Linked DNA regions of Homo sapiens. The protein of the gene in region 2 purifies or fractionates together with the protein of the main gene of each other region. This does not show direct contact. Each region holds a gene or a part of one and is shown on either strand. Other genes may lie near its edges. The genes, in order: GRHL1 and ZFHX4.

The links.
Region 1: the proteins of ZFHX4 (region 2) and GRHL1 purify together in Homo sapiens (co-immunoprecipitation; one large-scale study listed by IntAct). This does not show direct contact.

The regions. Positions count from the first base shown.
Region 1 is NC_000002.12:9,989,640-9,993,464, reverse strand, and holds part of GRHL1 (grainyhead-like protein 1 homolog), read right to left. Parts: intron 2,770-3,825; coding exon 2,718-2,769; coding exon of another isoform or gene 2,682-2,717; intron 1,459-2,681; coding exon 1,319-1,458; exon of another isoform or gene 1,149-1,318; intron 491-1,148; exon of another isoform or gene 259-490; coding exon 221-258; exon of another isoform or gene 1-220. UniProt on the Homo sapiens protein: Transcription factor involved in epithelial development. Binds directly to the consensus DNA sequence 5'-AACCGGTT-3'.
Region 2 is NC_000008.11:76,687,653-76,691,477, forward strand, and holds part of ZFHX4 (zinc finger homeobox protein 4), read left to right. Parts: intron 1-3,825. UniProt on the Homo sapiens protein: May play a role in neural and muscle differentiation. May be involved in transcriptional regulation.

The DNA.
Region 1 (3,825 bases), on a different chromosome or scaffold from region 2:
AAGCAATGTTAATATTCTAATCTTGACTGTGACACAGGAGGATGTCCTTGTTGGTAGGAAATATATACCACGATATTCAGGAGTGATGGGCCATCAGGCTGGCAACTTATCCTTGATGGCTCAGGGAAAAATGAGTTCTTTGTACTGTACTTGCAGTTTTTCTACAAGTTTGAAATCATTTCCATTATTAAAACAAAACAAAACAAAACATAAATCTTACCCTTCACCCTCCAATTCTTCAGAGGCAATGGGAAGGACCTAAGACCAAAGGAATAGATTGCTTTTCAAATGTATGCTCAAAATGTTTGGCCATAAATGAATTATTCCTAAAATGGAAATAATTTTGAATTTCACCAATCTAATATAAAATCCTTTAGCCTTAGTTTTCAATAACAGATTCTTACAGATGTCTTGAACTCCTTTAACTCAGTGGTTGGGCCAAATCTGGTCTAAAGCCAGTTCATGTAAATAAAGTCTTTACTGAAACAAAGCCACGCTCATTCATTCACATGCTGCTTATGGCCATGTGTGCACTAGTTCGGCAGCACTGAGCAGCACAGTGGAGACCACGGGGCCCCAAAAGCTGAAAACCTTTACGGCCCAGCCCTTCACAAAAACAGTGTGCTAACCCCTGCTCACCTCCAGCTTCCCATTAGAAACTAAATGTACTGGCCATGGCCCCAAGAACTCTGACGAATCTTTAGTCCTTATAAATCTGTCCACAAAGTGCATGAAAGACTGTCTTTTTGATATTTATTTGCACTCAGCATAAAACCATGCTTCATTCTACTGAAGTTTCTATCCCTTGTAAGCCTTTGCCACAAAACAGGGCGTGACCATTTTTTAAAATTTAGTTTTAGTTGCCAAGACATGGCCATTGGTAACTACACGTGGCAAGGACGGCTCAGTAACTGGAACTGTGAGAAAAGCCTTCGGATGTTCTTATGTTATAAGAGCTCCTTAACCTAGGTATTGCCCCAAGTTAAGTTTAAAAAGATGACAGGCTCAAACTCCAAATTATGCTACTATTCTAGAATCTTTTAAATGAGCTAGGATATGTAGGTATGAAGAACGAACGAATGAATGAATGAATACAAACAGAATAAAGCTGACAGGCTGCACTGCACCTTGAAATCAGCGATGCTTACCATTTTTATTGCACGGGCATCATGTCACCCCAGCAGAATATTCCAAAGAGCTGACTAACTGGTCAAACCTCACTCAATTTTGGCTTCTGTTTCCCATGAATAATGCCAAAGAATTTCCTTTTGCCATGCCTTCCTTCCTGGTAACCTCCCCTGGGATCCTGGTTACCTACATGAGTGCCCCGCTGCAAGTTGGCAAAGTGCACGTCAGGAATGAAGAGGACAGGCTGAGTATCGAGATCAATGAAGGGTTTGAAAACTGTGATATCCATTCGCTTGTGAGAGGGAAGCAGTGGCACTTTAACATCAGAAACTGAAAAAAAAAAAAATTAAAAAAGAGGAAGCCAAGGTCAAAGGATTACATACAGACTGGATGCAGGCCACAGAGTGCTCGCCTCTGAGTAAGATACTCCAAGTGTAGCACTCTGTAAGATACAACAGGGCACGCTGCCTGCCTAAGAATCCCAGTTTATGTAAAGGAATTTGTTGTGTGTATTTCCACTAAAATCAACTGAATGTCTTATCAAATCAAAAGGGAAAAGGTATCTTCAAACACACACAGACGCATATCCACAGAAGATTTGCGACAGAGGCAGAGCGTATTTAGTTTTCATTGGAAAGGCTAAAATGTATAATTGTGTAAACATAATTTGGAAGAAATTTCACCTCAGCTGTCCTCATTAAATAATTTACATTCCAACACTCATGGACCCATTGACTTCAGAACATATCAAGAAACTCGACAATGAGGTGAAGTGTAAGCATGCCCATCCAATTTTTAATTTAGTAAGTTAGAGACTCCATCTTCCCCAATGATCTGGCTGGCCCTGAAGTACTCAGTAATGAGGTCTCCTAGTTAGTCAGCTGCTCTCTGAAGTGTCACTGGGAGTTTGTACTTTGATACCAGTAGGAGAATCCTGACTAAGGTGTTGCAGGGCAAATGTCTGCTGAGCCAGACAGACCATTCAAAAGAGCTGCCAGAAGCCCATGTACTACAGATGGAACCCTACAGGCACAGAACAGCACTTTCTTCATTTTAGATACAAGATTTTGTGAATATGAATACTGGTCACAATTAAAAAAAAAAGAAAACAAAGCCTTCCTGGTGAAATGTCCAAACAGAAGCCCTATAGATTCTGCAAATATTAAAATACTATACTTTAGATACAAAATATGATCTTACTTGGAGTTAAGACATCTTGAATTCTCAAGACCATTATTATTACTTTAAAAAATCTAGATAAGTCCCAATTTTAACAGTGATTCATGCAGAACGTGTTGTCATTTTTCAAGACTGGAAACAGAAGTCTGAACTAGAACTGAGAGCCAAAAACGCTGAGGTCGGGAAAACCCAGGGATCTATCCTGTAGTCCCCAGGAAAACCCCTCCCGCTGAGCTGGCATCTGCTGCTGATCTGAGGAAGAGGCAGTGCCACACTGCAGAACAGGAAGAACACCCACTGTCTTCTGCGTGCAAACTCCAGCCACCATTCTCAATGGAAAAGGTCTGAAGCTTGCCGGGAACATTTCTACTTACAGGCATTCACCTGGGAGCTGGGGTCAGGACACTTGCCTTTTCTTTTGCTTTGCTTTCGTTCTTCATCCCTGATTTTCCGCTCAGCTCCCTGTAGGTTAAGAGAAGACAAGATATGATTCTGTTTTCCAATCTTCTTTAAAATATTTAACTCTTATCCTGACCAATGGAAGAAGAAGCCTTTCTCCCTTCTCTGGACAGGAACCCCATTACTTACTATATTCATGAGGCTTATCATAGTAGTTTCTTCTAAAAAGATTAGTCTTAAAATTATTTTTAATTCTATGAAATCACAGGGAACAACATTTATTTGAAAAACAAATAAAGCAAAATTCCGGCCGGAAGCGGTAGCTCATGCCTGTAATCCCAGCACTTTGGGAGGCCGAGGTGGGTGGATCATTTGAGGTCAGGAGTTCGAGACCAGCCTGGCCAACATGGTGAAACCCCACCTCTACTAAAAATACAAAAATTAGCCAGGCGTGGTAGCGGGCACCTGTAGTCCCAGCTACTTGGGAGGCTGAGGCAGGAGAACTGCTTGAACCCCTGAGAGGTGGAGGTTGCAGTGAGCTGAGATCACACCACTGCACTCCAGCCTGGGTGACAAAGCGAAACTCTGTCTCAAAAAAAAAAAGCAAAATTTCTCCTTATAATGGATGTGGTCGTGTTAAATGAAAGCTGAGAAAATCTGTGAGTATACCACATGCCTGCAAAGACACAAGGGTATTTTCCCTTTGTCCAGTAGGAAAAGGAAATGAAAGAAAAAACCCAAGTTGGCCCTACTCTTGAGTATACTCTCCTATATGGCCAAGGTTATCACTGAAGGCTGTGATTCAGTCCAAGGGCCTGGTATCAACCATGTGGCAGATCTAACCAAGCAGAATTCACAAAGTGAAGATGGAACTAGAAATATGCATCATCACTTAAAAGAGAACAAGTGGGCTGGGCGCGGTGGCTCACGCTTGTAATCCCAGCATTTTGGGAGGCCGAGGTGGGTGGATCCCTTGAGGCCAGGAGTTCACGACCAGCCTGGCCAACATGGGAAACCCTGTCTCCATTAAAAATACAAAAAATTTAGCCGGGCGTGGTGATGCATGCCTGTAATCCCAGCTACTCGGGAGGCTGAGGCAGGAGAATCAGTTGAACCTGG
Region 2 (3,825 bases):
AATGGATTCTTGTTCTAAGAATGCCTCTACTAATAATCTCTGGTTTCCTAAAGCAAAAAGATAGGAAAAGAAAAGAGATTCTGTTATTGGAATATTAATCCTGTTTTTGACAGAAAGGTAAACTGATATAATTGCTTTTCAGTTGAAGGAATGGGGGTTTATACAAGTGTGAAAGCATCGGAAAAGGATTAGCATTTTTTTGCATAATGAAAAGCTCTGTTGAATAGGGTCCTGAATGGCTGACTGAATGACTAAGATGAAAGGAAGATGAAAATGCAGGCTTCTCTTTCTTTATGTCTATGCTCCGCTCTCTCTAAAGTTATGTTTGTCCAAGACTTGAGAAAACAAGCAGGGGCTCAGATTTCAGCAACTTTATAAGATGCTGTGTTTTCATCATCATTGGGACGTAATGTGTATGACAATAGTGCAGCTAGAAGATGATCAACAGAGGTTTGTATATAGAAGAGTTTCAGAAACATGCCAGGCTAGCCAAATATTGACTATTGGGTATCAGGAATTCCCAGCACTTTGCTGGCAAAAACAATTATTTTAGAAGAGCCAATAGTATGGTGTGGATATTTAATTCAGTTAATGATGGAATATAAGGTGCCTGTTTTTTTCCCCATAGGCTATAAATAACTATCTCGATTGGTGAAACACTTCACTTGGGAAAGAGTTGTGTAATCTGACTTTTGGCAATGTTAAGTGTTTTAAGTGGTCTATCAGCTTTTGTGGCTGGGAAGGGAGAGAAGAGGGTACTGATGTATTTTCTTAAGATTTAATTCATAAAGTTCTGAATGCAGTCTTCATGTTGCTTTGTAGGTGTATTGTGTATTTTATTTAGAGATAAGTCTTTTTAAAAGTGTCTAGGTATTATAAGTTCACTCTTGGAGACATTTGTAGTAGGGTCCCCTGTCACTAGTTAGGGATGTAACTGGTTATCAGTTGACAATGTGATCAACACTCTTAATGATGTTTCTTCAGCCAGCATTAGGACAGTTAAAATACCATAAGTGTGAAGACTCTTTCAAAGATCGGAATTGGTTCTTTTGTACCTATGTAAATCAAATGCAGTGCAGATAATTATTTATATGTATACATTTTAAACAAGCTCTTTCTGGTTTGAGGTCACCACAAATGATCCACCGATGGCTGTCTCAGAACAAGGTTAGAAGATCTCATCAGATATTAACCCAACTTGTTTGTTGCTAGATTTTAGAACTTCCATTTGCCTCATCACTTTAGCAGTTTTGTTGTTGAGGTACTATTAAGATGGTTAGATGGAAACTTGGGAAATCACAAGTATTTTTACATAAATTAATGTGTAAGGGTTGACTCTTGAGTACAGCATATTGTAAAGGAAAACTGTTTGATCTATGTTATATAGTCCCCCAAATTTTTTACTGGAGTCCTTTTTAAAATTTGTCAAGAAATTCTGGATTGTTTCAGAAACTTTTATGGTTAACTTTATGATATGCTTGAAAAAAGTCTTAAAAGAACAAAAAAATCCACATGGAGGCTATTCTTTTACATGCAGAAGGGCTTATTAAGGTATTTCCATAAGAAAATGTGTTAATTTAAAAAATAAATTCATTTATATTTTAAGACATTGTTAACCAGGCACCATGTGTTGTAACTGGCAGTTTTCCAGCCACCATGGAAGTGGATCACACATGGGTTAATAGTAGCTTATGTGATGTCTGCATTCTTAGGAAATGGGCAAAAGCCCAGGGTATTCTGATATCAAGATTTTAGAAATCAGACAGAAAGCAGAATATGTGTTTATATGTGAACAGATGGACACATGTGAGAACTAAAAGTGCACAATTTCTCTTGGCACTTGTTTTAGTTATCCCTGATGATATAACCAAGATCTTAGTGCACTCACAGTCTTTGATGGCTAAAGACGAAATGGGCTTTTAATGAGGGCTCGATGGCATTATATTCTTGCATAAGGATTGTGCCCCTTGTGATCTTGCTGGACTTGATGTTCTGTTAATTCCCTAGTTTCAGAGGTTCACAAGTTGCCTTGAAAGTTTGATATGGTTTCATATTTGACATACAATCCTCAGTCCAAGAATGGCTGCTCTCTAGTCTCCCTTTCTTTTAAAGGTTTGTGAATAGAATCAAATATTTGCCACTTTAAGGCATATTTGAGTTTATGCACTGGACTTAAAAATGGCTTTGGCACTAAAGTCATATTTAGTAAGCAGCTTATCTCTAATATAATTAACCACTTTAACATTCTAGAGACTGGATAAAATAAACAAATACGATTTAAGAATTTGGGCAGACTGACTTAGTTAATACATCATAATGTCCTGATGGTCCAAGAAAAGTTGTGAGGACGTGTTTTGGTCACTCAGGTTAGCGGTTCACACACCAGCATCATCATTCAGATAATAGATCATTTCTAATGTTTGTCTGACTTGAGGACACAACAGTGCTCAGATGATAATTACTGAATGGTATGCACTGTAGGACATACCTCTAAAGACAACATTTATAGGTTTCATTGTGTTCTAGCTATAAAAAAGAAATCACTCTGCAAATATTTACTCAGGTCTAAATCATTTTAACCAGGGAAAATTGACTTTCAGGTTAAAATATGCATTTTATAACTGCCCATAAAATTCTTTTCCTTCACTGTAAAGAAGAAAGGAAATCCATAGTTCTAACAATGTTAAAATACAAAAACATATGAGCTGGTGTATGCCACCTGGTTATATTGTTAAAAACAAAATGAAACATAACTTCTTAAGAGGGAAGTTTTTGAGGAATCTTAAAGTTTGTCTGCTTGGAAGAATAGGTTGAAAAAGACCAATCATTTTTACATTTCCCATGGTATTTTCATTAAACCTGAAATACTTTGCTAATGTGGATTTTCAAAAATATAGTGCTTAGTAGTTTTTAAAATACCATAAATTTTGGAATAATGCAATTAATACTTAAGATTTCCTGAGCCCATTAATTGAAAATTAGAATTAATCATCTCTTTTGGTTTAGTGGATACAACTGTGTTTCATCATCCCTAACACTCCTACATTCCTATTCAGTAGAGTATATACAGACAGACACACACACACACATACACACACGTCTACCCTCTTTCCATGTTAGGCCTCTCTTTCCTCTTTAGATGCATTCCTAGTGGTAGCTTGTGAAGTTTTCCCTTCATAGGCTAAACTTCTTTCATCTTCTAAGAATTGGCCAATATAATCTCAACAGAAAAGAGCAACTAGGATGGTAAGGCAACTAGAAATTACCAAAATGCCAGAGCCTGGGAAGTGGCCTTACGATCATTCAGTTCAATTAACTCATTTTAAAATATGGGCTATTGAATTAAAGAGAGTTATCTTTGATTACCCAGCAAGGCAGGAAAATGTTGAGACAAGAATTCACATATTCTAACTCTAGGACCAGTGGTCACTCAACTGTATTGGCTATTTGAAAAAGGCTTGTTGAATGAATGAATATGAAGGTTGTGGAGATGGTGAAGAGTTGGAAGGAAAAATGTGCATGATAACCTGTCTTCTCTGAGAGAGTGAGCTCTCTGTTATCGACAGGAGACAAGTAGAATCTGGATGGCCTCTTGTTATTGTGACTGTTAAACATATTTTTGTGTTAAGTAGGAGGTAGATTAGGTGCTCCAAATGGACAAGAAGAGCCTATGATTCATAAAAATACTGATGATTTCAGTGACTTAAAGTGTATTTATCATAATCATAAACATGGTGTGAACAAGAACAACACTTCAATTCCGTGTAAGGAAAGGATATGAAGTCAAGGCTGTGATGTTTTGGAGGCAGCATAATGTACAGAAAG